Linked DNA regions of Homo sapiens: all the other regions are reported to be linked to region 2. Evidence: microRNA targets listed by miRTarBase, many of them from high-throughput screens and not tested one by one. Region 2 holds a microRNA gene; each other region holds the end of a gene's coding sequence. Distances are from middle to middle.

Region 1 (7,122 bases), not on the chromosome of region 2:
TTATAACTCAAAAATTCTGTGCCTTTTGTCTGACAGGGCACTCCCTTTTATCTTCTTAGGACTGTGTTTTTTTGCAAATGATTAAGGAGAGGGGTCCAATTTTATTGTTAGGGAATCTTTTCATGTACCTTTCTGGTCAAGTGAAAGATGTGGGCTAACAAATTTGATGTTGATGCATTCCCATTAAAACAGCTCTTTTCCTCTTTTTGCTCTCCCACTCCAAGGATTCTTCATACCCCTATAGCCAATCAGATCAAAGCATGAACCGGCACAACTTTCCTTGCAGTGTCCATCAGTACGAATCCTCGGGGACAGTGAACAATGATGATTCAGATCTTTTGGATTCCCAAGTCCAGTATAGTGCTGAGCCTCAGCTGTATGGTAATGCCACCAGTGACCATCCCAACAATCAAGATCAAAGTAGCAGTCTTCCTGAAGAATGTGTACCTTCAGATGAAAGTACTCCTCCGAGTATTAAAAAAATCATACATGTGCTGGAGAAGGTCCAGTATCTTGAACAAGAAGTAGAAGAATTTGTAGGAAAAAAGACAGACAAAGCATACTGGCTTCTGGAAGAAATGCTAACCAAGGAACTTTTGGAACTGGATTCAGTTGAAACTGGGGGCCAGGACTCTGTACGGCAGGCCAGAAAAGAGGCTGTTTGTAAGATTCAGGCCATACTGGAAAAATTAGAAAAAAAAGGATTATGAAAGGATTTAGAACAAAGTGGAAGCCTGTTACTAACTTGACCAAAGAACACTTGATTTGGTTAATTACCCTCTTTTTGAAATGCCTGTTGATGACAAGAAGCAATACATTCCAGCTTTCCTTTGATTTTATACTTGAAAAACTGGCAAAGGAATGGAAGAATATTTTAGTCATGAGTTGTTTTCAGTTTTCAGACGAATGAATGTAATAGGAAACTATGGAGTTACCAATATTGCCAAGTAGACTCACTCCTTAAAAAATTTATGGATATCTACAAGCTGCTTCTTACCAGCAGGAGGGAAACACACTTCACACAACAGGCTTATCAGAAACCTACCAGATGAAACTGGATATAATCTGAGACAAACAGGATGTGTTTTTTTAAACATCTGGATATCTTGTCACATTTTTGTACATTGTGACTGCTTTCAACATATACTTCATGTGTAATTATAGCTTAGACTTTAGCCTTCTTGGACTTCTGTTTTGTTTTGTTATTTGCAGTTTACAAATATAGTATTATTCTCTACTTCTTGGTACATTTTGTAGTAATATGTTTAATATAATTATTCAAGAGACTATATTGACAGCCAGATAGTATGGCAGTTCTGAAAAAATTTATATCTTTTCACCACTTGAATATACTGCAATGTGTAGTGAGTAAATTGTCTCCCTTTTTCTATAGATCATTAGGTTAGAGTTTTTTTCTTCTTTTTTTTTTTTTTTTTTTTTTACCACTTCTGCTGTTCATGGTAGTAGTGGAAGGTAAATTTGGAAATGGCATTGACATAAAATGAAAATGTTTACGGACACTTTTCTTTTTTGCTTTTTTATTGTATTTGGATAAAGATCCACTTAAAAGTTATCTGTTTTTTCCTGTTTTTTTTTTTTTTCCCCAAAGTGTAGTTATGTTTTCACTATTGCTGCTTCTATAGAGGGCATTGTGATAGAGAGTTACAGATGAAACATTAAATGCCACAGTGAGTAGAAATAATTACTACAAAAAGTAATAAATATGATTACTTGGTAATATCATTCTCCATCTAAAATACTAGTTTCACCTGTGAGCAGATTTCAGCTCAGTTTATAGTTAAAAACAATGAGGGTAAAATGGGATTCATGCTCAGGGAATGAATCAGCCATAGTTAGAGTGGGAAATTATTATTTTCTTCATTTAAAGGTAGATTTTATGTTTATTTCCCTAAATTGCATAAGATAAAATTGTCTGTTTAATAAAAAGACATTTATTACCATTATTAACAGTCATTTTAGAGCCAAATTTAAGAAAAGGATATTGAAAGGGTCTTTATTGGCCTTGTTTGGGTAACTCTATGCTGTTAGATAGAAGAGACTTAGGTAAATAACTTTTTATGTCTGAGGTGAGTACACAATATTGGTTCTTGGAAAAATAGCTGTTTCTTCATAAGATACCCAAGTGATAATTTTTTTTCCCCTAGACTGTCAGGCCTATGAGTAAATACTAAATCTATTAGCTGTCCCCACTCATAAACCAAACCAAACCAATACAAACAGATGAGGAGAGGAAATGTAGTAAAAATACTGGCTGGGTCTTATGATTGGGATGAGTGATTTTATAAGATAATATGGTGATAATTTTATTCTAGGATTTTATTTTTGGCCTAATATAGGAATGTTTAAAAAAGGCTTTTCTATGAAAATTAGAAATTTATACTTGAAATTAAAAGTCTAGAAGGGGGAGGACCTTAAAGCTAAGCTACCAGTAAGACAATGAATAATTCAGAAGAGAACACTATTCTTTTACTGACTGAGTGCCCAAGATGCCAATTTCCATGAAGTCTTGATTTATATATATGTACACATGTTATGCACATACATGTTTGTTTTCTAACAGTTATTTTTTAAGCTTTTGAGATAATTTTAGACTTACAGAAGAGTTGTAAAAGTAGTAGAGTTCTTGTATACTCTGCACCCACCTTGCCCTTATGTTAACATCTTACGTAACAATAGAACATTTGTCAAAATTAAGAAATTAACCTTGATATAATACTAACTAAAGTAGAAAGTTTAAAAAGTAGAGATTTTAGTCTTTTCACTAATGTCCTTTTACTGTTCCAAGACCCAGCCTTGCATTTAGCTATCATGCCTACGTCCTGTCTTCCAGTCTGTGACAGTGTATCATAACAGGGGATACCTGATGTTGTAATGTATTTCTGGTGTTGTTAACCTTGATCACTATGCTAAGGTGGTGTCTGCTAGGATTCGCTACTGTAAACTTACTGTGTTTTCCTTGTAATTATTGAATATTTGCTGGAGATACCCGGAGACTATGCAAATGTCCCGTTTCTGCTTAAACTTTTGCTCATTTTACTATCCATTGGCAGATCTTGCTTGTGGCAGTTACTACTGTGGTGTTCTAATGGTGATTTTCTATTTCTCTCAATCCTTCTACATTTATTATTGGAATTCTTCTGTAAGGAAGAGTTGTCAGTTCTGGATTTATATTTTTAACTATAATAAGATATTCAGGATAAGTATAGATTTAGAACTTAAAGATGTTAAATCATGTTAAAATTATTCCAAATACCAATATCAAAGAAAACTAAGTTGGTAATCTATCTCAGAAAATATATGAACTTAAGAAGGAAAATAGTATTTATGATTTGTAGAATTGGTTCAACTTTTGACTTAATACTGACTTTGGACTGAATTCAAAGTTTTCTTGAAATTTCACATCTGGACTTTTTAAAGTGTCTACATTTATATTACTTTGGGGATCATTTTGTCAAAGTCTTGAATAAAGTTACCCAGTCCTGGCATGATAAACACAACTATGTTTTTTTTTTTTTATAATAACCCTCTGTTGTTCCAAGTATGAATGCCAATGAAACTGTTTAAACAAATAAGCCCTAATGAAGTATACAGGGGTTGGATTATATGTGTCTCCACATGTTGGTGCAGAATTCTTTTAAATGCTTTTAAAAATGGGGTTCTGAAAACAGTTTTTCAGTTGGTTAATGTAAATAATACCATTAAAGCTAGGCAGGTTAAAAAAATTTTGAAGAATGTAGATTAAATAGGCATAAAAAAGTTTTTGGGGGATGGATAGTTGATGGAGCTTTTCTTTTACAACTTTACTTTTTTTTACTTATTTTTTTAAAAAAGTAAGGAGTTTACCTCAATTCGTAGAAGTTACGAGTTTAAAAAGTCAGTTCTATGAAAGGCAGCATTCTCCTGATCCCACCCCCATTTCTCCTTCTCTAAAGGCAACCACTTTCAACTGAGTTTTTCTTTTGTTAATCAAAAAATTTTGTTTTTAGAGACAAGAGTCTTGCTATGCTGGTCTTAAATTCCTGGGCTCAAGTGATCCTTCTGCCTCAGCCTCCTGGGTAGCTGCGACTACAGGCATGGACCACCTCAACCAGCTTCAACTGAGTTTTTATGTTTTTTTTGAGACGGAGTCTTGCTCTGTCGCCCAGGTGGGAGTGCAATGGCGCGATCTCGGCTCACTGCAACCTCCACTTCCCAGGTTCAAGCCATTCTCCTGCCTCAGCCTCCTGAGTAGCTGGGATTGCAGACATGTACCACCACGTCCAGCTAATTTTTGTATTTTTAGTAGAGGCGGGGTTTCACCATGTTGGCCAGGCTGGTCTCGAACTCCTGACCTCAGGTGATCTGCCCACCTTGGCCTCCCAAAGTGCTGGAATTACAGGTGTGAGCCACTGTGCCTGGCCAGGTTTCCAGGTTTCTCTCTCTCTCTCTTTCTCTCTCTCTCTCTCTCTCTCTCTCTCTCTCTCTCTCTATATATATATATATATGTTTTCTTTACTTTTTTTTTTTTTGAGACAGAGTCTTGCTCTGTCACCCAGGATGGAGTGCAGTGGCATGATCTCGGCTCACTACTGCCTGAAATTCCTGGGCCCAAGGGATCCTCCCGCCTCAGCCTCCCCAGTAGCTGGGAGGCATGCATTATGGCACCTGGCTAATTTTGTAATTTTTTGTAGAGATGGAGTCTTGCCATGTTACCCAAGCTAGTCTCAAATGCCTGGCTGGGCTCAAGTGATCCTCCCTCCTTGGCTTCCCAAGTGCTGGGATTACAGATGTGAGCTACCACACCTGTCCTCAATATACTTATTTGGTAGTTTCATTGTACGTTATCCTGACTATGTAAATGCTAAGGAGAGTTTAGCTATATAGTAACCTGATTACTTTTCCTTTCCTAACAACTTGTTTTCCCTGGAATTAATCATCTGTCATATTTGTTTTGTTTGCTTATCTACCTAAGACTGATTTGACCTTCTCTCAGTCGTCTAAGTCTCTCAAGATGCTCAGACAAGGCCCGGCATGGTGGCTAATGCCTGTATGCCCAGCACTTTGGAAGGCCAAGGCGGGAGGATTGCTTGAGCCCAGGAGTTCAAGACCAGCCTGGGCAACATAGTGAGACCTCGTCTCTATTTAAAAAAAAAATTAAAAAATTAAGATAAATACAAAATGATTAAAAATTATTAATATTGGCTGGGCGCGGTGGCTCACACCTGTCATCCTACTGCTTTGAGAGGCTGAGGTGGGTAGACAACTTGAGGTCAGGAGATCCTCCTGGCCAATATGGCAAAACCCCATCTCTACTAAAAATACAAAAATTAGCTGGGTGTGGTGGCGCATGCCTGTAATTCCAGCCACTTGGGAGACTGAGGCAGGAGAATCACTTGAACTCAGGAGGTGGAGGTTGCAGTGAGCTGAGATCGTGCCACTGCACTCCAGCCTGGGCAACAGTGAGATTCCGTCTCAAAAAAAAAAAAATAAATAAATATATATATATAAAACATATAAATATATATTAGAAATATATATTTAAAATATTAAATATACATTAAATATGTAATATATATTTAATATATAATATATATTTAAAATATATATAATATAAATATATATAATATATATATATAAATATTTTATCAATTTCAAACTTCTGAAGAGTCTATCCTGAACCCTTCTGACTGGAAAACTAGTATGTTCCTGGCATAGTACATAGGGTCATGCTGTGGATTCTTTTTGTCTCTTCTTTTGGTTTTCTGTTTTTTGTATCCTATGTCTTTCTCTTTTTGTTTATTCCGTCATTTGGTGGAGCATATTCTCCAGGTGCTTCCTGGAAAAGGGTGCATGGGAAATAATTTATTTTGATCTTGCATATTTGAAAATGTCTGTTCCACCTAGCCAATGGATTGATAGTTTGGCTGGGTATAGAATTCTAGGAAATGATTATCTTAAGGATTTTGAAGGCATTGTTATATTGTCTTGTAGATTCCAGAATTGCTGTTGAGAAGCATATGCCATTCTGATTCAAGATCCTTTGTATAAAACCTGATATTTTTCTCTAGAAGCTTATAGAATTTTTGGGGGGGCCCCATTTGTTCTGAAATTTCCTAAGAATAGCTTTGGTTTAGGTCCATTTTTATCCGTTTTGCTGGGGCCATTTCATTCTGGCAACTCATACCATTAAGTCCTGTGAAATTTTTTGATTTTTTGTTTGTTTGTTAATTTCCCTCTTTCCTCCATCCCAGTCTTCTCTGTTAATACTTTCTAGAATTACTACTGTTTTGACTGTAGGCCTCATAGACTGGTTCTTTAATTTTCTTATGTTTTCTGTTTGTTTGTTTTTTTTTTAATGTTTTGCCTTTTTGTGGTACTTTGTAGGAGATTTATACAACTTTATCACTTTTTATTTTTATTTTCTGTGTGACAGGGTCTCATTCTGTCATCCAGGCTGGAGTTCAGGGGCACAATCTCTGCTCACTGCAACCTCTGCCTTCCTGGTTCAGTTGATCATCCTGCCTCAGCCTCCTGAGTAGCTGGGTTACAGGTGCACACCGTCACAACTGGCTAATTTTTTTTGTATTTTTTTGTAGAGACAGGGTTTTGCTAAGTTGCCCAGGCTGGTTTTGAAATCCTGAGCTCAAGCGATACACCCACTTTGCCTTCCCAAAGTGCTAAGATTACAGGCATGAGCTACCATGCCTGGCGAACTTTTTCTTCTGACTTCTAAAACATTGTGTCTTACATTTCTTCCATCTTTTTTTTTGGTTTTTTTTTTAGAAAGACTGTCACTCGGTCACCCAGGCTGGAGTGCAGTGGTGTGATCTCAGCTCACTGCAACCTCCAACTCCCAGGTTCAAGCAATTCTCCTGCCTTGGACTCCCGAGTAGCTGGGACTATGGGGACCCACCACTACGCTGGCTAATTTTTTGTATTTTTAGTAGAGATGTGGTTTCACCCTGTTTGCTAGGCTGATCTTGAACTCCTGACCTCAAGTGATCCACCCACCTCCACCTCCCAAAGTACTGGGATTATAGGCATAAGCCACCATGCCCAGCCTCTTCTATCATTAAAAAAAAAAAAAAAAATTGGCTGGGCGTGATGGCTCACGCCTGTAAT
Region 2 (7,122 bases):
TATTGTTGCTATTATTATTTTGAACAAGTTGTTATCTGTTAGATGAATTAAGGATCAGAAAAACAAAAGATTTAGTTTTACCTTTATTTTTTTCCTCTACACTCTTCCTTTCTTTTTGTAATCCATATTTCTGATCTATATAATTTTCCTTCTTTCTGAATAACTTCTGTTAACATTTCTTGCAAGTCATGTTTATTGGGTTTCATTTCTCCCAGTTTTTATTTCAGAAAGTCTTTATTTCTTCACTTTTGGAGGATACTTTTGCTGGGATTCTATAGGCATTCTAGTTTGGTATTTTATTTTATTTTTTTTAACAGCCCAGAGGTCTTATTTTATTTTATTTTTTTGAGATGGAGTCTCATTCTGTTACTCAGGCTGGAGTGCAGTGGCACGATCTTGGCTCACTGCAACCACTGCCTCCCGGGTTCAAGCGATTCTCCTGCCTCAGCCTCCTAAGTAGCTGGGACTACAGGTGCGCACCACCACACCTGGCTAATTTTTTGTATTTCTTTTCTTTTTTATTTTTGAGACAGAGTCTCACACTGTCGCCCGGGCTGGAGTGCAGTGGTGTGATCTTGGCTCACTGCAACCTCCACCTCCTGGGTTCAAGCGATCCTCCTGCCTCAGCCTCCTGAGTAGCTGGAATTAGAGGCGCCCATCACCACGCCCAGCTAATTTTTTGTATTTTTAGTAGAGAGGGTTTCACTATGTTGGCCAGGCTGGTCTCGAACTCCTGACCTCATGGTCTGCCCGCCTCAGCCTCCCAAAGTGCTGGGATTACAGGTGTGAGCCACCGTGCCCAGCCAGTCTAGAGGTCTTTTATTTTTTTTAACACCTGTTATGCTATGAATTCACAGGGAATAGGTTCCAGCAGCTCAGGCTCCTTCCCACTGGTTCTCACAAAGTGTGCTTCTCTGGATGGAGCAGGCTGGTGCTTCAGTAGAACCCGGGTACCTTTCTCTTTGGCTTCTTTCTTTTTCCGATCATTTTCCTTTACGTGTTTCAGGAAGCTATTTTGGCTCTTAGAGTGCTGAATGTGCTCAATACGCACATTAATTCTCTTGGCAAGAATCTTGCCCTTAACTTGTTTGTTGACAAGTTGTTTACAATACCAACAGCATGCTGAGTAACGTGTTTGTTTACAACTTGCTTACAGTGCCAACAGCATGTTGGGTAACACTGCAGACTCTTCCAGTTTTGCCATGATAACACTCGCGGAGCATTCCTTTTTGAATAGTACCCATTCCCTTGATGTCTACAATATCACCTTTCTTATAGATTCGCATACATGTGGCCAAAGGAACAACTCCATGTTTACTAAAAGGCCTAGAGAACATATATCGGGTGCCTCTCTTCTTTCCCTTTGTGTTCGTCCTTTTGGCGAATTACTGGAAGATGGTGGTTCCGGCCGAAAGGTTGGATTTTTTTTTTTTTTTTTTTAACACTAAATATTTCACTTCACTCTTTTTGCTTGCATGGTTTCTGAAGAGAAAGTTTGATCTAATTCTTTATTTCTCTGTGGATAAGATGTTTTCTGTGTGTGTTGATTTTTTTCTTTACCTCTTGCTTCTTTCGAGATATCTTATTGGTCTTAAAGTTAATAAGGAAAAAACTAAAGTTTTGCTTTTGATTTAGTTTTCTCTTTGTCTTATTTTCTGCAGCTTCACTATCATTTGCCTATGTAAATATTTTGGTATTTATCTTGCTTGGTGTTCTCTGAACTTCCAGGTTTGGTGTTTCTTACTAAAGACATTCTTTCCTGTTACAGTGTTATTGATTTGTACACTCCCCTTCCTCGCCTCCCCTCTTCACTGTTTTTTCCTTCTCTTTACTCTTCCTTTCTTTCCACAGGATCTCACTCTGTCACCCTGGCTGGAGTGCAGTAGTGGCGTGATCATAACTCGCTGCAGTCTTGAACTCCTAGGCTCAAGTGATTCTCCCTCCTCAGCTTCTCAAGTAGCCAGGACTACAGGTGTGTGCCACCATGCCTGGCGATTAAAAAAAAAATCGTAGAAACAGGGTCTCCAATGTTGCCCAGGCCGGTCTTAGAAAAAAGGACTTAGCTGGGCATGGTGGTGGCATGCACCTGTAGTCCTACCTGCTTGGGAAGCTGTGGCAGGAAGATTGTTTGTGCCTAGGAGTTCAAGGCTACAGTGCGCTGTGAATCACCACTGTACTCCAGACTGGGTAACAGTGAGACCCTGTCTCAAAACATATATATAAAAAAAAATTCCTGGTGATAATTTGATAATTCCTGGTAAAAATTTCTGCCACATCCGAGTCTGTTTCCGAGGCTTGCTTTGTTTCTTCAGATTGTATTTTTTGCCTTTATAGTGCCTCATAATTTTTTTTCATAGCCAGACAGAATGTATCAGGTAAAAGGAACTGAGGTAAATAGGCCTTTAGTGTGAGGTTTTATGTTTATCTGTTTAGAAGTCAGGCTGTGTTTAGTGTTTGTTCTGGCTGTGGTATCGGAGGCAAATGTTACGGGATCTTTAAGGTGTTGCTTTTCTGTCTAGAAACCTCTGTGGCCAGTGGCGCCTTTGCCCGAGTTCTTGTCCTGTGTCCAGGAAGAATTATGTATGCAGACAAGTGGAGGGTGAGCAAGACAAAGAGAAGCTTTACTGAGTGTTAGAACAGCTCAGAGGAGAGCTGCAGAGGGCAGCCCCTCTCTATAGGCAGGTTGTCTCATCCAGTGTTCAGCTCTCAGCAGAGAGGAGGCCCTGGAGTGAGTGGCTCCTCTCTGCAGGCAGGTCCCCATTGACTTCCCAGCTCTCAGCAGAGACGATAGCTCCTCTCTGCAGCTAGTCATCTGGCTGTCTCTCTGGCCTCTGCCCTGCTCTGGCTGATCTCGGGGCTTTTATGGACCTCAGTGGGGAGGAAGTGTGTCAATTGGTACATCGGTGGCCATGGGTGGGCTGGAAAAGGCACCACAAGCCCCCACTGCAGTCTGCGGGACTGGCAGCCCGGTCCCCAACGTTCAGGCCCTCCCTGGCCTGAAGGTGGGGTCTATCTGGGGACGTGCCCCCTTCCACCCAGGAGCCTGTCTGCTTCCTGCCACTTTCCATGGCTCCCAGGCTGCTTGTGCCAAGGGGCACCTGCCTGCCAGCATGGAGCAGCTCTCCACCTCAGCTTCCTCAGAGGGGGCCTAGGCGGCAGGGCCTGAGCATGCGCATATCCTGTTGGGCTGTGATGATATCCAGGCTTGGCTCCAACCCCACTCTGAGAACCTGCCACATTGGAGCCGGTGCGGGAAGTGGCAGCGGGAACAGGCATTTCCGAGCCTGCAAAGGCAAGGGGGGCCTTCCTGAGCCCCCAAGAGCACACGGAGGCCTGGGTCCACAACCCTGACTTGGGTAGCTGCAGCTGTATGGGGTTGGGGGACAGGGCTCCTGCCTGTTTCCAGTCCCCAAGAGCACATGGAGGCCTGGGTCTACCACCCAGGCTTGGGTGGCTTGGGCTGCTGCCTGCTCCTGGCTCCCACTGGCACTGTGGAGCATGCAGCCCTGGCTCCGCCCCCTTTCAGCCTGAGACAGGGGCTCCAGATCCTTGCTGGACCTGGGCTGGGATCCGGGGCAGGGGTGACATCGCCGGGAGCTACCCCAGTTGCCCTGGCGCTTCAGTGGCCCAGGCAGAGCAGATAACTGTCCGGCCTGGCTGTTGGGAGTGGCAGGCTCAGCAGTCGCCTGATGTGGGGTGGACCCTGGGGATGTAGCCCCGGGCAGCCCTGCACAGAGCCTCCTCCTGAGGCCCAGGAACCTGGCACCCTCAGTGGGGTGGGCGCAGTGGCTGTGTCACTGGCTGGTCCCTGAAGTGGGCACCGCTCCCACTTCCTGCCTCAGGCCCCTGAAGCTCAGCCTCAGCTCTGCATCGGTCTGCTCTCTGCTTGACTGTGCTGCACAGAGGGCGGCGGGCTGTTGAGGGAGGGGGTCTGTCCGCCTCTCCCTGTGCCGTCCATGTACCAGAAAGCCACCGCCATCACTATTAGAGGCTAAAATTTCTTCTACTGTCCTTGCTTTTATCTGCCCTGTTGTCTTTGGGTTTTTGTAAAGAATCCTTAAATGGGGTCTGAGGCTTGCAGGTTTTTAAGTTGTAATCCTGTGTTGTACAAGAGCTGTACTGATGTGGTGGTAAGGGTAGAGGGATGAGGGGGAAAGTTCTATAGTCCTGTAATTAGATCTCAGGACTATAGAACTTTCCCCCTCATCCCTCTGCCCTCTACCAACTGTGAGCCTGAGTTGAGTAACTGTCTCTTTTTCTCGGTCAAAGGATAGATGGGGCTGGAGTTGGGTATTTCCCTTCCCTCCGGTTGGTTAGGCACTGTAAAACCGTAGTAGGTTAGGCAATCTAAAAGCCAGTTGGTTAGGTTCTGGTAAAATAGTTTCCTTTTCTGGAATACCTTTTAAGAGAAATAAAGTTCCTGGCGTATTTCAAAATGGTTTTTCTTCTTCCCCTGCTGCAAGCAGGAGGGGTTTTTTTTCAGATCTTTACCATGAGAACCTGGTAGGGCTCCTGGAGGTAAAACTCAGGAAAGTATGGGGACCCCTGTAAGACTGGTCCCCTTACAGTTTTTAACTCTCAAGCTAGTCCACAATTACTGTTTCAAGTGTTCCTACTGATGCTGGCTTCAGTTGAGAGCTTGTATTCCTGGACTTCTGCTTCCTGCACACTGTGATTCTCTATCTGCCTGTCTTGTCTCTCCAGGTTTTAGAGCAGCAGTTTGCCCTCTGACCTCAATTCTCTGATGGCTCTAAGAAGAGTTGGATTATCAGTTTTTTTTTTTTTACCCCCAGCTTTTTTTCTTGTCGTGAGGTTGGGAGTGATGAATTACAAGCTCTTTACAACTGTACTTAAGGTTATTTTTTGACCATTTTTGATGCTTTTGTAACTAGTCAAAAGACTTATTACAGTATCCTTTATCTCATTTGGCAGTATTGTTCATTAAGAATTTTATCTCTTTCTGACATCAGGTCTGCACATTTTGGGGATAATATATTCTAATTTGCAAGAAAGATTAAAAAACTTCTCCAGAGGGAAGTTGATCATAGGACTGATTCTTATTATTGATGAATTGACTGCCTTGTCTTGTTTTGTGTTGCTATGTAGGAATACCTGAGGCTAGGTAATTTATAAAGAGTTTGATTTACCGCACAGTTCTGCAGGCTGTACAAGAAGTATGGCACCAGGATCGGCTTGTAGTGAGGGCCTTAGGCTACTTCCACTGATAGCAGAAGGCAAAGAGGTGCCAGCTTGTGCACAAAATGAGAGAGGAGAAAAGGGTGGGAGGAGGGGCCCTGGCTCTTTTTAACAACCAGCTCTTGGGGGAACAAATAGAGTGAGACCTCAAGCATGCCTGAGGAAGAGCATTAATTTATTCTTGAGGGTTCTGACCCCTCCCCACCATGCCCAACAACATCTCCCATTAGGCCCCACCCCCAACATTGAGATCAAATTTCAACAGGAGGGACAATCATCTAAGTGATAGCATAGACTCAGGCTATTTACTATTCTGTTTTCAAGTATAGATTGAGGGCAACAGCAGCCTTTGTTTTCTATGTTGATGGCCAAAGGTTTATTTTTATATTCTTATACTGTAAAAAAAAAAACAACTTTATTTTTATAGCCTTTTTGGGTGTAGGGTCATGTCAGGCTTTACTAATTGCACTTCTGATAAGTATACTGATGATGCTGAGGATGGTTATTAAAGCCCTATGCTGATACTTTGGATTTATGGAACCAATTAATTTGATGACTCATTTACATTGAATTTCTTAATTAGTAGATTGCCCACTAATTATTTTTATGAGCACAGAATAAGGTAATGTTTATTCTTATTTTTTTTGTGATATGGTAAAAAACTTAGTTCATATAATGAATTTAGTGCTCAAATATCTTAGTAGAAATTGAAGTAGAAAAAGACATTGTTGTAAATTAAATGTAAGATATAATTTTATTTTCTTTAGAAAACTTTACATTGAAAAGATCACATTATAGATAATTTAGACAACTTATTTATAACTTTTATTTATTATTATTATTGAATGTAAAAGAATTACATGCAGTCCCATGATCTTAACATAACTGTGGTTACCATGTTGGTATATGTGCCTTTTAGTCCTTTTTCATACACAATTTTTTTTACAAAGTTATAATAATAATTTCTTTTCAAATTTGTGCCTTATTTCAGTTAACAGTGTAAATGTTTCCCATTTCTAACAATGTTTTCTCATTGAGTGAGGTACTGTTAGGTTGGTCAGACTGATAGTTTATTGTACGTATTGCTGTAATATCTTTGTACATTTAGCTTTTCCATGTTTGTACCATATCTTTGGGTTTTCAGAAGTCTGTCTCTCTCTCTGTTTCTCTTTTTGTCTGTCTTTTCTATCTCTCACCTTCATTTGGGGAGCATTTTGTGTTCTCTTTCACAGGACTAATTAAGTTTTATTGGATCTTGAAAAACGGGATTAGAAATTTTTTCTTACTTATATAATTAGAAAACAATGCTTTTGGACTTACATTGCCACGGCAGTTTACACAGTTTTATTCCCAAAAATTGTAGTTTTGTGACTAGGTGATAAAAATGATCTCCTATATGTGCCAAACTTGGTATTCTAGACACTCATACTTAGGATGTAAATTGACTGTAGTCCAATAATTTAATATGTTGTGTTTAATTCTTGTAATATTTTACTCACAAATTGAACTTTTCCTTACCAATTTAATGTTTGTAGGCTTAATTTGGCATCTTTGTCAGGATTATTAGACTTCTCTGCATTCTTCTGACTTCTCCCTAAACTAATGTTTAGAACTGAATTGGGTCCAGCAATTTAAGTGGAAAATCAGTATGACTAGAGACTTCTAGAAACTTCTGGTGTCACTGAGATGGTGAATTTGATGATTCTGACCCTACTTGCTCATCTGTAAAAGCTATTAGAGGATTGTTTTAAGCATTTCTATTCTATACAGGTATATGTACACCATGTAATACCACTCAGCCATAAAGAAGAATGAAATAACATTTTTGCAGCAATTTGGGTGGAGCTGTAGGCCATTATTCTAAGTGAAGTAACTCAGGAATACAAAACTGAATACCATATGTTCTCACAAGCGGGAGCTAAGTCA
Region 3 (7,122 bases), 3.7 Mb from region 2:
GGCTATTGCAGTTCCAGAGCTCCCCATGTGGCTGCTAAAGGCTTTGTTGGGACTGCTCCTCAGCTGTTTCTCCCTCTGCCTACTTCTGTTCTTTCTCTTCCACATGTGTTGAAAAGCACTCCCCAATAAATCACCTGAAATCTCCATCTCAGAGTCTACTTCCCAGAGAACACAAATTGCAAAGACACTTTGGCATCATTATAGTCTCTTTACTTTTGTACATGTTCAAGTTTCCATAATTATAATTTAAGAAAAGCAAAGGACTGTGTCAGACTATATATGGTAGATAAGGGAGTAGTGACAAGTGACCTCTAGGGTTCTGGTTTCAGACTGAATGGTGCCATTCCTTGAGCAGGAGATGCAAGAGGAGAAGCCATTTGGAAGACAAATAAGGAGTTAATTTTTGACATGCCAAATTTGGGGCGCCTGCGGGGAGCACCCTGGGCTGGAGACGGTGATTATCAAGCTGGAGACAGTCCATGAAAAGGAAAGGTAACGGTGGCTTGGAACATCTCAAAGGGCCAATAAAAACTCTATTTAGATTTCAACTGTGTTTGCACAAGTACAGTTGAATTTGTGAATACCTCACAGAATGGGAATTAACTGCACCCTTGATAGCAGGCACCATATTCTAGAATATTTATATCACCTAGAGGTCTTAGAATAATATCTTGTACTCACTCAACACTACTCATTGATTGAATGGATCTCCCTGGAAGAGCTAGAAAATGGTTCTGTTCCCCACTTTGTTCCTCTGATCATAATTCTTCTCTAGTCTCTGACACACCTGAAATCCTCTCCACCTTGGATCATGTGTGAGTTGTTTTTGCGCATGCAGAGTGGAAGGCTTTAGGACGGATCAAAGATGAGTCAGATGGGAACCATGCTCTGAAGAAACTAAGAGTTTAGTACGAGGGATAAGACATGCAAAAATTATAAGGTTAAAAAAAGAGAAGTGAGAAAGCTAAAGAGGAAGTGATAAGGAAATTCACAGGAATGATAAATATTTGCAGTTGGGAAAACTCTAAGTAAGAGGCAAAGGCTGATGCAAAGTACCTCCCAGGCTGTATTGGCTCCTTTCTAATTTTCCGTATTTGTAGCTCACTTTCTTTAGGTTTTTGCTTTAATATTCTACCAGCAGATTAGGGAGTCAGGCAACAGTTTATGACTTCTGTCCAGCTTGTTTCTGTACGCCTATGAAAGATTTTGTCATAGCAGTTGTATGTAGAACCGTTTTTAAAAATCCATTTCAGAGGAAATAATATTATCCAGTCATATTTGGAAAGGATCTCTACATAAAACAGGGTTTTTAATGTTAATATTTCAAAGATCTTTAAAATTAGATTTTACTTCACAGAATCCTAATCTACTTGTCTGACTTTACACAGTGTTTCTCTACTTTGTAAAAAGCATGACCCTTTGTGATAAATATTACAGCCCCACCAGCCTGCTCTCTTCTATGGAAAATTGTCCATCTATAATGATTATGCATCCGTAGGACCAAAAGAATTATGGCACTCTCATTAAAGGGCACCTCCCTGATTAGACACGAACACACACACATATGATAAGTGAGGCTACAGATCAGTTTTTATTAGTAAAAAAGTATCTAAAACACCTCAACTACTTTTGAAAAGTGTACCTTTGCTTTCTATAAAATGCTATTTGAGGAAACCACAAACAATGAATTTTCCTGAAGGAAACAAATGAAAATAAAATGTAAAATGTAGTGAGCTGTGGATATGCAGAGGCGAAGTTATTTATTCTAAATACCTGGCTTTGTACTTTATAATACATTGTGCAATCTGAACATACCAATTATTACAGAGATTAAGGCTCCAAGCTTTTTCCGTACTCTATACACTCATCTCCCTTCTGTCCAACAAGATTATCTTCTCCCAAAGGATTCTCAATAGCTGGCATACAATAAAATCAAAACAGTAAAAAGCCCAAAAAACCACCCCCCACAAAACCACCAAAATAAAAACGGCACCAAGTGGGATAAAGTTTCGAGATCCTTAACTAGGCATATCTCAACGTGCTTTATTTAAAATAAACGAACTCTTTGAGTGCCTTAAGAGGAATATATTTAAATAAACATAGAACTCCTCTATTTTTGATTAGATGTCTAATTTTTTTTAAAAAAGTATTATATAACTAACCACTATCCAATCTGTTAGAACTCAACTTTTTCTATTCTACAAAGAAAAAGCTTCATACCCCAAAGCATTTGCTTGGGAATTTCGGGAGGCAGCTCTTCCGCAATACATCAAGTCCCATTCGCCCACGCCCCCCCCATCTAAAAAACAAAGTTTGGGGAAGCACTAGGCTTCCGACTTTGACAAGTCCCAGAAGACAAAGCCCAGGGCTGACCCCCCACGCCTGGCGCCGCCCGTTCGCAGGCCAGGAGCGGCCAGGGCCTCCCGCATGCGCTCCCACACGTACGCGCAGCGGGCAGCAGCCACCCCACAGCGTACACGAAAGTCGCCTTGCGCGGCTGGAGCCCTGGAGCCCACGGCCGGGGCCGCGGGCGGGGCCCGGGACTGCGGTGCTGCGCCCGAGCACGTACTGAGGCGTGGCCTGCCGCGCGCCGGGCGGGGCTCGGGAAGTTTCTCGGGTTGGCTTGGGTTTCGCATCCTCATCATGTAGCGCCAGCCACACCAGGAACAGAAGGGTGCCGGGTACCTTCCGCATGCTTGGTATTCTCCCCGCGGGGCTCTGACCGCTGCCGCTCTCAGGCACCTGTCTTTCCTCTCCGTCCCAGAATGGAGCCAAGACAAGGGAATAAACGAAATTCAATAGTACACGGAGATCGGGTGTCTGGGCAGCGTCTTGGAAAAACTATCCACTACAGGTAAGAATAAAAATTATGTCCAAACCTCTGAAAGGTGTGAACACATCAAAGCTCCAGAAGGCGTTCATAGGAAGGTTTATGGTAAAGTATAACTTTTATCCTACAGGGAGACTATTTTTGTATCGAATTCCACTAATTTCACTATTTCTCTGTAAAATAATCTGGGACGACAGGTTCATCTCTATTTAAAGGAACGAAATGTGAGCAAAGTGGTTAGTGGAAAACTTAAAAAAAAAAAAGTAAAAGTTTTTTTCTTTACATTTTTGTTGGTTCCAGCTGGCAACACGTTTGCAAAGGTTTTATTTAACCAAATCTTAATGTTGAAAAAAAGAAAAAAAGAGGATTCTTTACTCTGCAACTTGTTTTAGGTATTGCTACTTAAACATTTTGAACTTTTAGATTAAGTTTCTACAAAGCGAGTAATTTTAAGTTCATCTTTTCTGTACAGAGGCTTCTAGGAGGAAAATAAGATTTGGAATGATAATCGTGAGGTTATAAAAACTTAAACATATCTATTATGCCATTAAGTCAAAACAGCTCTGGGAAAAAATACCATACATTGATACAGTCTTTTATAGTTTGTGCTTTCCCATTCACTACCTTGTTAATTTGAGTTAATGTCTCCATAACTGGATATCTCAATCTCTAGTTCAAATTCAGAACCCACTAAATGGCACTTGAAAACACTTTTATTCATTTCTATTTATGCCCTGCCACTCCTCTTAGGACATTCCCTCAATGTTATGTGATCTCATTACTTTCAAGTGACATCGGATCCTCAGTTTTCCACACCTCCATTGCCGCCTTCTGTTTGCTATTTAAACAAACAGTTAACAATGGAGAAAAGGGTATGTTCAACTGGATTGGCTAGCACTGCAGGGTGGTTAGCTCCATGGACTTTGGAGTCACTCATGGCCACCTCAAAAGCTCCGAGCCTTAGATCACTTCTTCAAGACTATATACTGTATAGATATACTCCTCCCTTATCTGGTACTGCTATGAATGAACTATATATAGCATTTAGATCTCAAATGAAGATTTACCCAAGCTCTAAAAGTAATAGATGGCAGACCAGAAATGTAAGCTTAAGTCTCCTGACTCTAAAGTCAAACTTAGAACAAACTTGGTTTGTTTTTTAATGATACTGCATTAAAAAAATTAAAATAGCTTTATTCTTTTTCTCCTGTATTTTTATGGAATAGCTACATTTCTTTTATACTCAGAACATACATTCTCATTTTTCTGGGTTATGAGTATAAAAGAAATACAGCTGTTTCATAAAGTAAGGATTATAGTTGCCAGGGTTGGGTTATAAGCCTTGGACAAAACCATTATGAAGAAATTTGTGACGGTGCATAAAATTGGGAAGGGCCAGTTCTGCTATTCCGTAGCTTAAAGCACTCCAAGGAGCTTGTTGTCTTAGTGACTGAGCAGTGGGTAAGTACTTGCTTCCTTCCAGCTGTACTGTCCTTTAACGTGGCTTTCCCTTCTCAATGCTTTCAGAAGTCATTTTCCTGAACTCCTGGTCATTACATAATCTGCTTTTACAAATAGTTTTCAACTGAAGCTAATTTGCTATACAAGAATAATTTTTTGTTTTGTGACCTGTGAATACTAAGCAACCACTTTATTCTAAAATACCACTTCTAGTATACTACTATCTGTAACTAAATGTTGAAGCACTTTGGGTCACAGTGTTTGTGCTTAAGTATACCTGTGCCCCCCCCCCCCCCAAATTTTGCACTGAATCTTAGTATTAACTTTTGTTCCAAAATTTTCATATAATTGTAATCACTGTCCTCCATTGTAAGATAAAAAGAGCTACCTAAGAGATCTGTGGCTCAGTTCCTTTTGTTCAGTATATATACCTCAGGGTAAAGGACCTAAGGCTCTGGCACTTCCTACATAATTTGTTCATAAAAATAATTTTCTGTACCTGTAGGTGCAGGGATTCATAGTGATTTTTCTGTTTTAAAAAATATCTTTCTACACTGTCTGATTTTTAAAAATGAGATTATCAGTATAAAAGAAATACAGCTATTTTGTAAAAGAAAAATACAGGAGAAAAAGGATAAAGCTACTTTGTTTTAAAACGCAGTATCATTAAAACAAAAACAAACCAAATTTGTTCTAAGTTTGACTTTAGAGTCAGGAAACTTAAGCTTACATTTTTGGTCTGCCATCTATTACTTTTAAAGCTTGGGCAAATTATTCATTTGAAGTCTAAATTTATTAATCTGTTAATGGGAACAGATTAGAAATCTTCAGAGAAGCTCTAGCCTTTGTAACATTGTGACTATAATGCTGAGAACTGCTTCACTCATCCCATTCATATTTTAAAAATACTAATATTTTGTGTTTGAGCATTTTAATAGGCTCAGAAACTTAAAAATGATGTTTCTTTTCTAACAACATACTCTTTTCAATGGGATATTATGGTTGTTATTATTTAACATGACATTTAGGGACTCAACATACATTAAGGTGATGGCACTAAGATAAATGTAGAAATAACCAGTACCATGTAATTTTCATAAGTGCTTAAATTGTTGGTAAACAATTTTATGAGTTGGAGGTGTTGAAGCAAATATTATTAATATTTGAACATAAAAGCTGATCAAAGGGGCCTGGTCCACAGAAGATGTTTATTTGATGTAACAAAACAATACAGTTAGTGTTAGATCCAACCACAAAGAGCAAAAGGAATGAAAAATTTGTACAATGTACATAGAAAAAACAAGATATTTACTGTGACAACTATATATTCCTAAAATAATGCTTCTAAAATTACTCAATTATTGAAATCTACATGAAAAAAAGGATGTTAATAGCGACAAAGTGCATAAAATCAAACATTGTATTTTGAGCAAATTAACATACTAGGCAATTTTGCTAAGAATGCATGATTTTTTTTTTCTTGTTTACAGTCTGCTCAAAATATCTTTATACCAACAGGGTAGGCAGAACATTTAGGTTTAATATCAGTTACACAATATTAGCATAAACTTCCACAACTACATAGGGTATTGTTTTCTTTTGAGCTGGCAAAGTGACTATAGAAACATCAGATGATTTCTCTGAATTGAGAATTTTATCCAAATAAATGCCACATACCTTCTAGATATATGCATATCTTTCTATATTATGTAAATGGCTTTACCCATTTAAATAATAAACCATACAGCATTTAAGAATCATTATTATATGATTAACAATGTCATGTTCCAGGTTTAACAATTTCATAGGCCAAAAAAAATTTCTTCTTAAAAACTAGTTTTATAAACGCAGAATATATTCCATGAGTAACTGCTGGTATTTTTTAAGAAAATATATTGTGCAATTGTGGCTACCACGTACTGCTGGCAAAGCATTATTATTTATGTAAAATGTGAAAAAAAAGGTGTAAAAATTTTTCAACTGCCTATGATCATGATGAAAGGTTACTGCCTTCTTACAAAAATTATATTGGCATCTTCTTAAAAATAATTCGAAAAAGGGATAAACTCCCTAGCCAAAAATAAATAAATAAAAAGGTGCATTTTTTAAAATGATGCTACTGCAATGCAATGGTTTAAATACCAAAAAACTGAGAAAATGAGCTGTCTGTGATCCAGCATTAAAGAACATACTAAAAAAGAGCATTAATGTAAATTAAGTAGAAAGGGGATCAAAATTGAACTAACCAAGTTTGTGCAGTATTGTAGCCAGGCTTCTAAAATTAGATGTAGAAAATATAAATAGACTGCTTTAGGTAATGAGCCACCAGTGTCCAAAAAAAGGAATGAAATTAAGAAAAAGCTCAGTTAACTTGATCCAAAGCTCTGAGTAATTCTTCACCCTGCAGTAGGTTTCTGCTGCCTTGTATAGGAGCATTAACTTCACAATCATAACTGGTCAGCTGTGGTAATCCACTTTCATCCATTGATTGCCCCAGCAGTCTACATGCTAAATCTGAAAAACAAAAGAGATACCTAAGTATACATTCATCTAGTCAATGAATATTTATTAAACACCCACAATGTGTTAGGTATCATAGAAAATAAAGCAAAATTCTGGAAGGGTTTTTAGTTTACCTGGCAAAACCACAACTATGTTAAAAAGTAAGTATAATCCAGTGATACTGTTGCTGTGTCAGAAATGTTTACAGGATACAATAAAGGCACAAAGAAATAACAATTTGGAAAAAGGCATAAATATGGTGGGCATCAAAGCTGATGCCTGTAATCCTAGCACAGGCTGAGGCAGGAGGATCACTTGAGGCCAGGAGT
Region 4 (7,122 bases), not on the chromosome of region 2:
AGGGCTCTCTGAGGGGTTGGGTTTCTCAATAAGGTACTATTTCCTGACCTTCTCTCCTGAGACAGGCACATTCGTCCTCCGTGACCTTCCCCTTCAGCATTCACCTGAGGCTGCATGCCCTCCAACTGCTGGGACTCTGTTCCTGCCACATTGAGGAAGGGGGCTGGGCACGACATGGCATCATACTCAGGAGCCTTCTTCACCAGCTCCTTGGGACAATGGAATATCCCAGGGTGGTGACAGCAGATGGAGCTACTTGGGGGAGAGCTCAAGTTGGTCAGGCAACAGCTGGGGTGATGGCCTGTGAGCCACAGGCCACATCAGGAACTTTCCCCACTGCCTCCATGCAAGGCTGCAGAGCTATGGTCCCTTTCTCCACTGCACTGGAGCTTTGAAGACCTAAGAGGCTAGTGGTTCCTGGAGCTAGTGGTTACCTGAACAGGTATGGCGATGAGCTACAACATCACCTGAGTCACCAGAGTTGGGTTGGCAGAGGGGTGAAGGGTTCACCCCATTCCCTGACCCATCCATGCTCTTCCTGGCCTTTTAGCCCTGGGTTCCTCATGCCTTCCAGCTCTGCTCCTGGTCTACTCCTTAGCCCACACCCTGTGGGTCAGCAGCTGGCTTCCTTCTAACGTCTCATTCTTTGTTTCTCCCTTTCTTTTGCTGAACTCCCTGTCCCCCCAACCCCAGAAGGCAATGTTGAGCCGAAAGCGTGCGTCCCAGTGTCTCACACCTGTGCTCTTTAAACACAGAGACCTGCCAAGACGCCCTCTCGTCCAACTATGCCCAGGCTGAAGTCCTCACCCTCTCTTAAAGCGGCACCAACGTGAGAGAGACAGGCAGACAGACAGAAAGCCAGAGGCTTAGGGAAACTCTGGAACCCAGACAAGAATCTTTTCGCTGGGAAAGACTCAGATATCCTTGTTTGCACAGGACTGGTGGAAAATCTCCCATGCGACCCTCGGGGCCCAGAGCCATCTGGGTCTGATGTTCTGTTCCATTGTACATCGAAGAGATATATATGCACATATAGTATCTATATTCATACATATTATACTCTTGTGTGTAGTGCACGTGCTATTGGTGGTTTGTCTTCTTTGTTAGGCTGTGTCTCCCTAAGCCCTTGCCCCACCCAGAGTTTCCCGTCCCCTTCACTGATTTCTGTTGTTTCTGCTGACTGTGTGGGTGGAATGTCCCAAGAAAAGTGCATCTGGGAATTGCCAGTCCAGCTGGGTAGTCCCAGGCTCCTGTCTTGGGGATGTTTCCCCTGTCAGCAAGTAACCTGGTGAAGTCTATTGAAGGCCAGACTGCCCCCTAGGGTCACTGCTTCACTAGCCGCACCCCACCCCAGATTGGGGTTCTACCTCCCACCCCACATCCTCGTTGTGGGGGGACTTCCAGGGGCTCCTCTGCAGCCTCCTCCACTACTTCCTCCACCCCATCTATGTCCTTGACTTAGGGGGGCATTTTGTCTTTTTTAGATTTGATTTTGTTCTCTCTCCTTTGTCTGTTTGTTGTCAAAGATGCTGCTGGGCAGACAGGCAGGGAAAGGATCTGTCTGCCCATCTGGCCCAGGGGGTCCGAGAAGGGAAGCCTTGGGCAAGAGGAGACCAGTTGCAATACTGTACTTCCTGGTCAGTGGCCAGAGGATGCGTGCAATAGCAGAGGCCAGGTGACCCCTTCAGCCTTGGCCTCTGCCCCTCCCTTGGCCCTCCCTCCCTGCTCCTCCCTGGTGTTGGTCAGTCCTTTTCTAAAGCTGTCCCCTCGTGTGTGTCTGGGGCATGCCCAGGCTGGGCCCTGTGCCCTGTCTGCATGCCTCCAACTGTCATGCTGTGCTCGAGCCCCAATAAAGACATCTGGAGCATCCTGCTGCTCCTGCTGTGTGAGCACCTGCCTCTGCCTCTCCTTTCTGGCTCTGTGTCTATTGGGACCTCCTGGGGCTCTCACCCCTGACACCTGAGGAGTGCACACACTCAGCATAACCCCACTCCAGCAGGAATCATCAGTGTGGCCTGACCCCTGCATTTTACAGGGAGAGACTAGTGCTCAGAGAGGGCAAGTCATCTGCCCAAAGCCACACAAAGAGGACTAACCCAGGACCCCGAGACCCAAACAGTGTTCTAATATCCACTGCTGTCCCCAAGCCCCTGCCATAACATGGAAGAAAAGACTGTTCTTTGTTTAAGGAATTCCACTGCATTCCGTTTGTGCAGGGGGCCTCCCCTCCTCCCTGCAATTGTACCAGTTCTAAATGGGCCAAGACCCTGGGGACGCCAAAGTTATTGGCTGGATGGCTGATGAACTGAGGCCAACTAGAGACTGGTGGCACAACTGGGGACCACTTAGGGATGGAGAGTGAACACATCCTGGGCCTGGATAGGACGGGGAGATGGTGAGTGATGGTCAGACGTGGCCCTTGGCTCTCACTGTTGTTATCCCTCTCACGTTCACATAGGGGCACACGCAGGGCCAGCTTCATGGGTGTGCAACCTGTGCAGCCACTCAGAAGGGCCCCATGCTGGGTTTAATGCTTGGCTGTCACCATCATGAAATTAATAATGGTTGAACAGGGGCCCTGCGTTTCCATCTTGCACCAGGCTCTGGCGGGTCTGGTTGCCTGCTTGCCTCTCCTTATTCTTGTCTTACTCCTCACTCTTACTCTGGGCATCTGTGTAGGACCATAGGGGCCTCAATTCAAAGTCTTGCTTTGCTGCTTGCTAGCTGGGTGACTTGGGGGTGACTCACCGAAATGGTTTCCCTGTTTGTTAGGGAATAATGATGGCCCCTGTTTCAGAGACAGAGTGAAGAGCCTGGCCTGGTGTCATGTGTCTACCTGTGATATGACATATAGTAGCGGCACAGTGTCAGCTCCCTCCCTGCCCTGTTCCTGTCACTCTCAGACTTTTCTCCACAGACTTCTGAGATCTCCGTGTCCAGCTGCACCAAGAAAGGACAAGAACACACCCGGGAGCTGTCTTGGGCAGTGTAGAACAGCAGGGTGAGGACGGAATGGCCGAGGAGAGGGAAGAAGCCAGGGGAAGCCTGTTCCTGAAGTGTAAGGAAAGATCGGGCTTGGAGCCTGGGCCAGCCGAGGCAAGGGGGTGGCAGGCAGCCAGTGTCAATTAAAGATAAAATTTCTCCTCCGGTAGTGGAGGGCAAACAGTGGCTGTGGCCCCCCTAGACAGGAGAAAGCCATTTGCAGCCAGGCTGGCCTTGGAAAAGCTTGGCCAGGCGATAATGGGACGGGATGCGCTGCTGACTCCATAATGATATTACGCATCAGGGCCCACGGCCAAAGTGGCTGTTTTTTCTGTAGATCGATGTGGAACCATTTCATGGTCAGGGGCTGAGAACCCAGCCAGCAGCAGGGGTACTAGATGCCAGAGTGGTCCTGAGGGGACTGAAGGGGTGGCAACTGGGGTCCCCAGTGACCGTTTCAGGCTGCTGGAAGAGGAGGGGGCAGTGTGCAGGAGGGTGGAGGGGTGGACGAGAGAAGCAGCAGACTGCCCCTCCTCCCCACCTCACAGAAACAGCAGGCCGTGCTGTCAAGGAAGAAAGGGCTCTGGCTTCCTCCTGTTCCCCAAAGCTGGAGTCGAGCCCAAGGTAGGGAGCTGGTTAAAAGAACAGGACATTGTTTAAAAGAATAAGACAGACTTTTGAAGTCAGGCAGACTTGGGTTTGAGTCCTGACTCCATCACTTCCTTGTTGTGTGACCCTGGGCAAGTTACTCAGCCTCTGTGAACGTCTATTTCCTCATCTTTTAAATGTAGTATCTGCCTGAGGCCGTGTCTCTCTCATTGAGCCATGAGGAGAAATGAGTCGGCGCCTGTAAAGCCTCGCGCACAGTGCCTAGCACATAACCATTGCTAGAGGGAGAGGGGAGTATTTTGGGGCAACTCACTCCAGTAACAGATGACCAGTTTGGTTTGATGACCTCACTTTTCAGTGAATCAGCCTCATTTCACTGAAGTCCTTAGTCCTTATCTCCTTGTGAAGGAATAAGAGGGGATGATTATACCTAACAGCGAACATTTATTGAGTGCTGGGCAGTACATTTCATGCTTATAAAGATGCATTCCAAGATTGATGTTATCCTTACCTTTGTTTTACGAGGAGAAAACCAACACAACAATGTCAGGTCATTTCTCCAAAGTCACACAGCCATTAAGTAGCAAAGCTGGGATTCAAACTCAGTCTGGCTCTGTGGGTCCAATGCTTAGCCACTCTCTGAACTGAGTGGGGCTTGTGAGTCATAACCTCCAGTGTAGGAGTTTGTGCTTTTAGTGTTATTTCCTTAACTGCAATTGATTCTCATAGCAAAGGTATTGTTTTCCCCTTTTACAGATAAGAAACCAAGGCTTGGAGAAGTGAATCATTAAACTCACTCTCCCTTTTACGTGTATGTACCCCACCCCACACACACATAAAGCGAGGAGGAATGTCCTCTTGGGATTCATTCATTAATTAGCAGCAGGCAACACCCAGCTCAGTGACTGCTTGGTTCCTTCCCTCTGCGACCCCACTGGAGTTTTATTCTCTGACGCACAGAAGTGGGTAAGTGGGGGTAGGACTGCTCTGGAACCCAAGTTACATGAGGAGTGGCTCAAGCTGGAGAAGTCTTGGAAACCTGATCCCAACTACCAGGTGTTTAAAGGGTACCTGTGGGGAAGTGGGTTTAGATTCTTCTCTGATTGCAGAGAGCAGATCCGGAAATAATAGGTGGAAATGTTAGGAGGGCAGATTGGGTTTAAATTTTAAAAAATCTTTTTTTAATGAAATTTTTGATTTGTAATTTTTGTGGGTACATAGTAGGTATATATAAGAACCTTATTTTCTGTTGTTTCCCTTGCTATTATAAATTTATTACTGCCAGTCATGGTGGCTCATGCCTGTAATCCTAACACTTTGGGAAGCTGAGGAGAGTGGATTGCTTGAGGCCAGAAGTTTGAGACCAGCCTGGATAACATAGTGAGACCCCATCTCTACACAAAAAAAAAGAAAAAGAAAAATTAGCCAGGTGTGATGGCATGTGCCTGTAGCCCCAGCTTCTCGGGAGGATTTCTTGAGCCCAGGAGGTTGAGGCTGCAGTGAGCTATGATCATACCACTGCACTCCAGCCTGGGCGACAGAACGAGACCCTGTCTCAAACAAACATTTATTTAATACAAGGTATTGGAAACCATCCCCATACCAAATCAACAGGGAATCCCCTGTCACCCTTCCTCAGTCCCACTTTCCTCCCCAGAGGTGACATGGTTAACATCTGGTGTGGGTCCTCCCAGGCTTTTTGGAAAAAAAAAAAACTTTCTAACAAAATTACCAAATCAAAATGGGTTTCCCTGCGGGGTAGTGAAGTTCCCTTCCCTGAAAATGTTTGGAGACACAGTGGATGATCATGTGCTGCACCAGGGTTCGTGGGAAGTATTTCTGCTCGGCGTGGGAGGTGGAATTAGAAGACTGTTTCCAATCCTAAGACTTTCTGACTCACGTGGCACACACAGCTAGTTAGTGGTGGAGGCAGGTCCAGAACACAGGTATTCAGATGGGGTTCAGATGAACTCCTTTCCTAGCAAGATTTTCCTTAAATTCTTCTCTGCCTCTTCCCAGCCCATCAGGGATATAGGGCAGGGCAGAGAGACATCTGTGTCTCCTCTAGTCTGGAGCGAGGGGAGTGTCCTGGGCCTGGGTTGTGATGCCATCCAGTGCCCACCCTCGTGGGGCTCCTGTGGCATTATTGCAGTGAGCACTTTCTTTCCGTTCCTGGCTCCAAGCCCTGTGTGTGCATACACTGGTACCCACACAAGAGGTAGCACGTGAGCTGGCTCAGTCACTTGGGGCTGTGGTAACCGCATTCAAAATGCAGCATCATGCTAAAGAGCCGCTGGGGACTCTGGGGACAAGGCTGTCTCCGACCCAGCTTTAGGGGGTGAGGAGAGGGAGCCAAACGGCTACAGCTGCAAGTCAAAGAGGTCAGAGGCCTTCTGATGTTGGCACTGGAAGCCTCTCCTTTCTTTCCCCACAGGTTATGGGGGCTTCTCCACTCCCCGCTCTTACTTGCCTGCTTCTCCAGGGATCCCTAGAAGAGCAGTGGTTAGCAAGCATATGCTATAGCCATCAAATACGAGTCTACAGAAATGTAGGCTTCCCCTTGGGGCTGAGTTAGGGCCTCTGCTTCTGAAATGAGCAACCTCTGGTTGCTGGTGGGGGCTAGGGCTTGCTCCCTTTCTCTCCTCACATACTCTTTCCTGGGTGACCTCATCCCCTCCCATTGCCTTAAACATCTTCCAGGTACTGGTGTCATCCACTTGTGTAGTTCCAGTTCAGAAATCCCGTCAGCTCCATTCATTCATTTGTTCATTCATTCAGCAAACATATGTGGCATCTCTGTCCCAGGTACTGCTCTACAACCTGGGTGTACAATAGGGACCCAAACAGACACTCCCTTCCCCATGCACTCCCTGCTCACAGACACACCTGCGTGGCAGTGCCTGGGTGTCTTCACAGCTCCCTGATGCCGAGCTGTGATCCCACCCTTCTGCCTCCCTGGTCCCCCTCAGCGTGCTGCCACCATTCACCTTGAGGCTGAGATAGATGTTGTCAAAACCACCCTCTCATTCCTTAATTCACTCACTCATTTTTCGTGCATTAAATCTTTATTAAACACCTGTGAACTCTGTCCTCAGGGAAACAATGGTGAACAAGACCAACAGGATCCCTGCCCTCATGGGACTTACATTCTAATCAGGGAGAGAGGCCAGAAGACCAATAGATAAAAAATATCTCCCACCCGTATTCCAACCTATTACCAAGTTCTACATTTCTAGCTCTGCAGGAGCCTCCTCCCAGGTCTCCCTGGGTCCCATCTGCCCTTCTGCCACCAGTCTCCACCCAGTCACCAGAGAGAGAGCTTCTTAAAATGGAAACTGGATCAGATCATGTCACCCCTGCTTAGAACCCTGTCAATGGCTGGGTTCCCACTTCGTGTACAATCCAGACTCCTTAGGAGGGCCTGTGATGCCCTGCTGCTCCTCATGGCCTTCCTGCCTCCGCAGACCTATTCATGCCCCTGCTCTCAGCCCCTGAGACCAGCAGCTCACTTTCCTGTCAGTTTCCCACACA

Evidence for each region. Region 2 holds the annotated microRNA hsa-miR-625-3p (GACUAUAGAACUUUCCCCCUCA, at 4,185-4,206, shown strand). A microRNA usually pairs through its seed, bases 2 to 8, with sites in the 3' UTR of a target mRNA and lowers its output. Matches are read on the target gene's strand: a 7mer-m8 pairs with bases 2 to 8, a 7mer-A1 pairs with bases 2 to 7 and ends in A, and an 8mer does both.
Region 1: the mRNA of BAG4 is a reported target of hsa-miR-625-3p. Seed matches in the 3' UTR shown: 7mer-A1 at 1,221-1,227.
Region 3: the mRNA of HIF1A is a reported target of hsa-miR-625-3p. Seed matches in the 3' UTR shown: 7mer-m8 at 5,907-5,913.
Region 4: miRTarBase lists KCNC4 as a target of hsa-miR-625-3p. Seed matches in the 3' UTR shown: 7mer-A1 at 1,032-1,038.

Annotation. Positions count from the first base shown.
Region 1 is chr8:38,209,784-38,216,905 of GRCh38, forward strand. BAG4 (BAG cochaperone 4) reads left to right here. Exons shown (of 5, transcript NM_004874.4): 5 at 225-3,518. The coding sequence ends at 710. Among named protein-coding and RNA genes, the nearest start is that of DDHD2, 18 kb to the right of the region's middle. RefSeq lists a silencer at 928-1,222.
Region 2 is chr14:65,466,969-65,474,090 of GRCh38, forward strand. MIR625 (microRNA 625) reads left to right here and starts at 4,134; the gene lies at 4,134-4,218. The region is part of intron 2 of FUT8 (fucosyltransferase 8); the gene reads left to right. It also overlaps the pseudogene RPL21P8.
Region 3 is chr14:61,746,617-61,753,738 of GRCh38, reverse strand. It overlaps HIF1A (hypoxia inducible factor 1 subunit alpha), which reads right to left. Exons shown (of 15, transcript NM_001530.4): 15 at 5,481-6,805. The coding sequence ends at 6,654. HIF1A-AS3 (HIF1A antisense RNA 3) reads left to right here and starts at 2,642. Exons shown (of 3, transcript NR_144368.1): 1 at 2,642-2,854. It overlaps HIF1A-AS2 (HIF1A antisense RNA 2), which reads left to right and starts at 4,650. Exons shown (of 1, transcript NR_045406.1): 1 at 4,650-6,700. RefSeq lists a silencer at 2,311-2,620.
Region 4 is chr1:110,232,156-110,239,277 of GRCh38, forward strand. It overlaps KCNC4 (potassium voltage-gated channel subfamily C member 4), which reads left to right. Exons shown (of 4, transcript NM_001039574.3): 4 at 756-1,889. The coding sequence ends at 817. Among named protein-coding and RNA genes, the nearest start is that of KCNC4, 25 kb to the left of the region's middle. RefSeq lists enhancers at 2,767-3,267, 3,268-3,768 and a silencer at 4,280-4,389.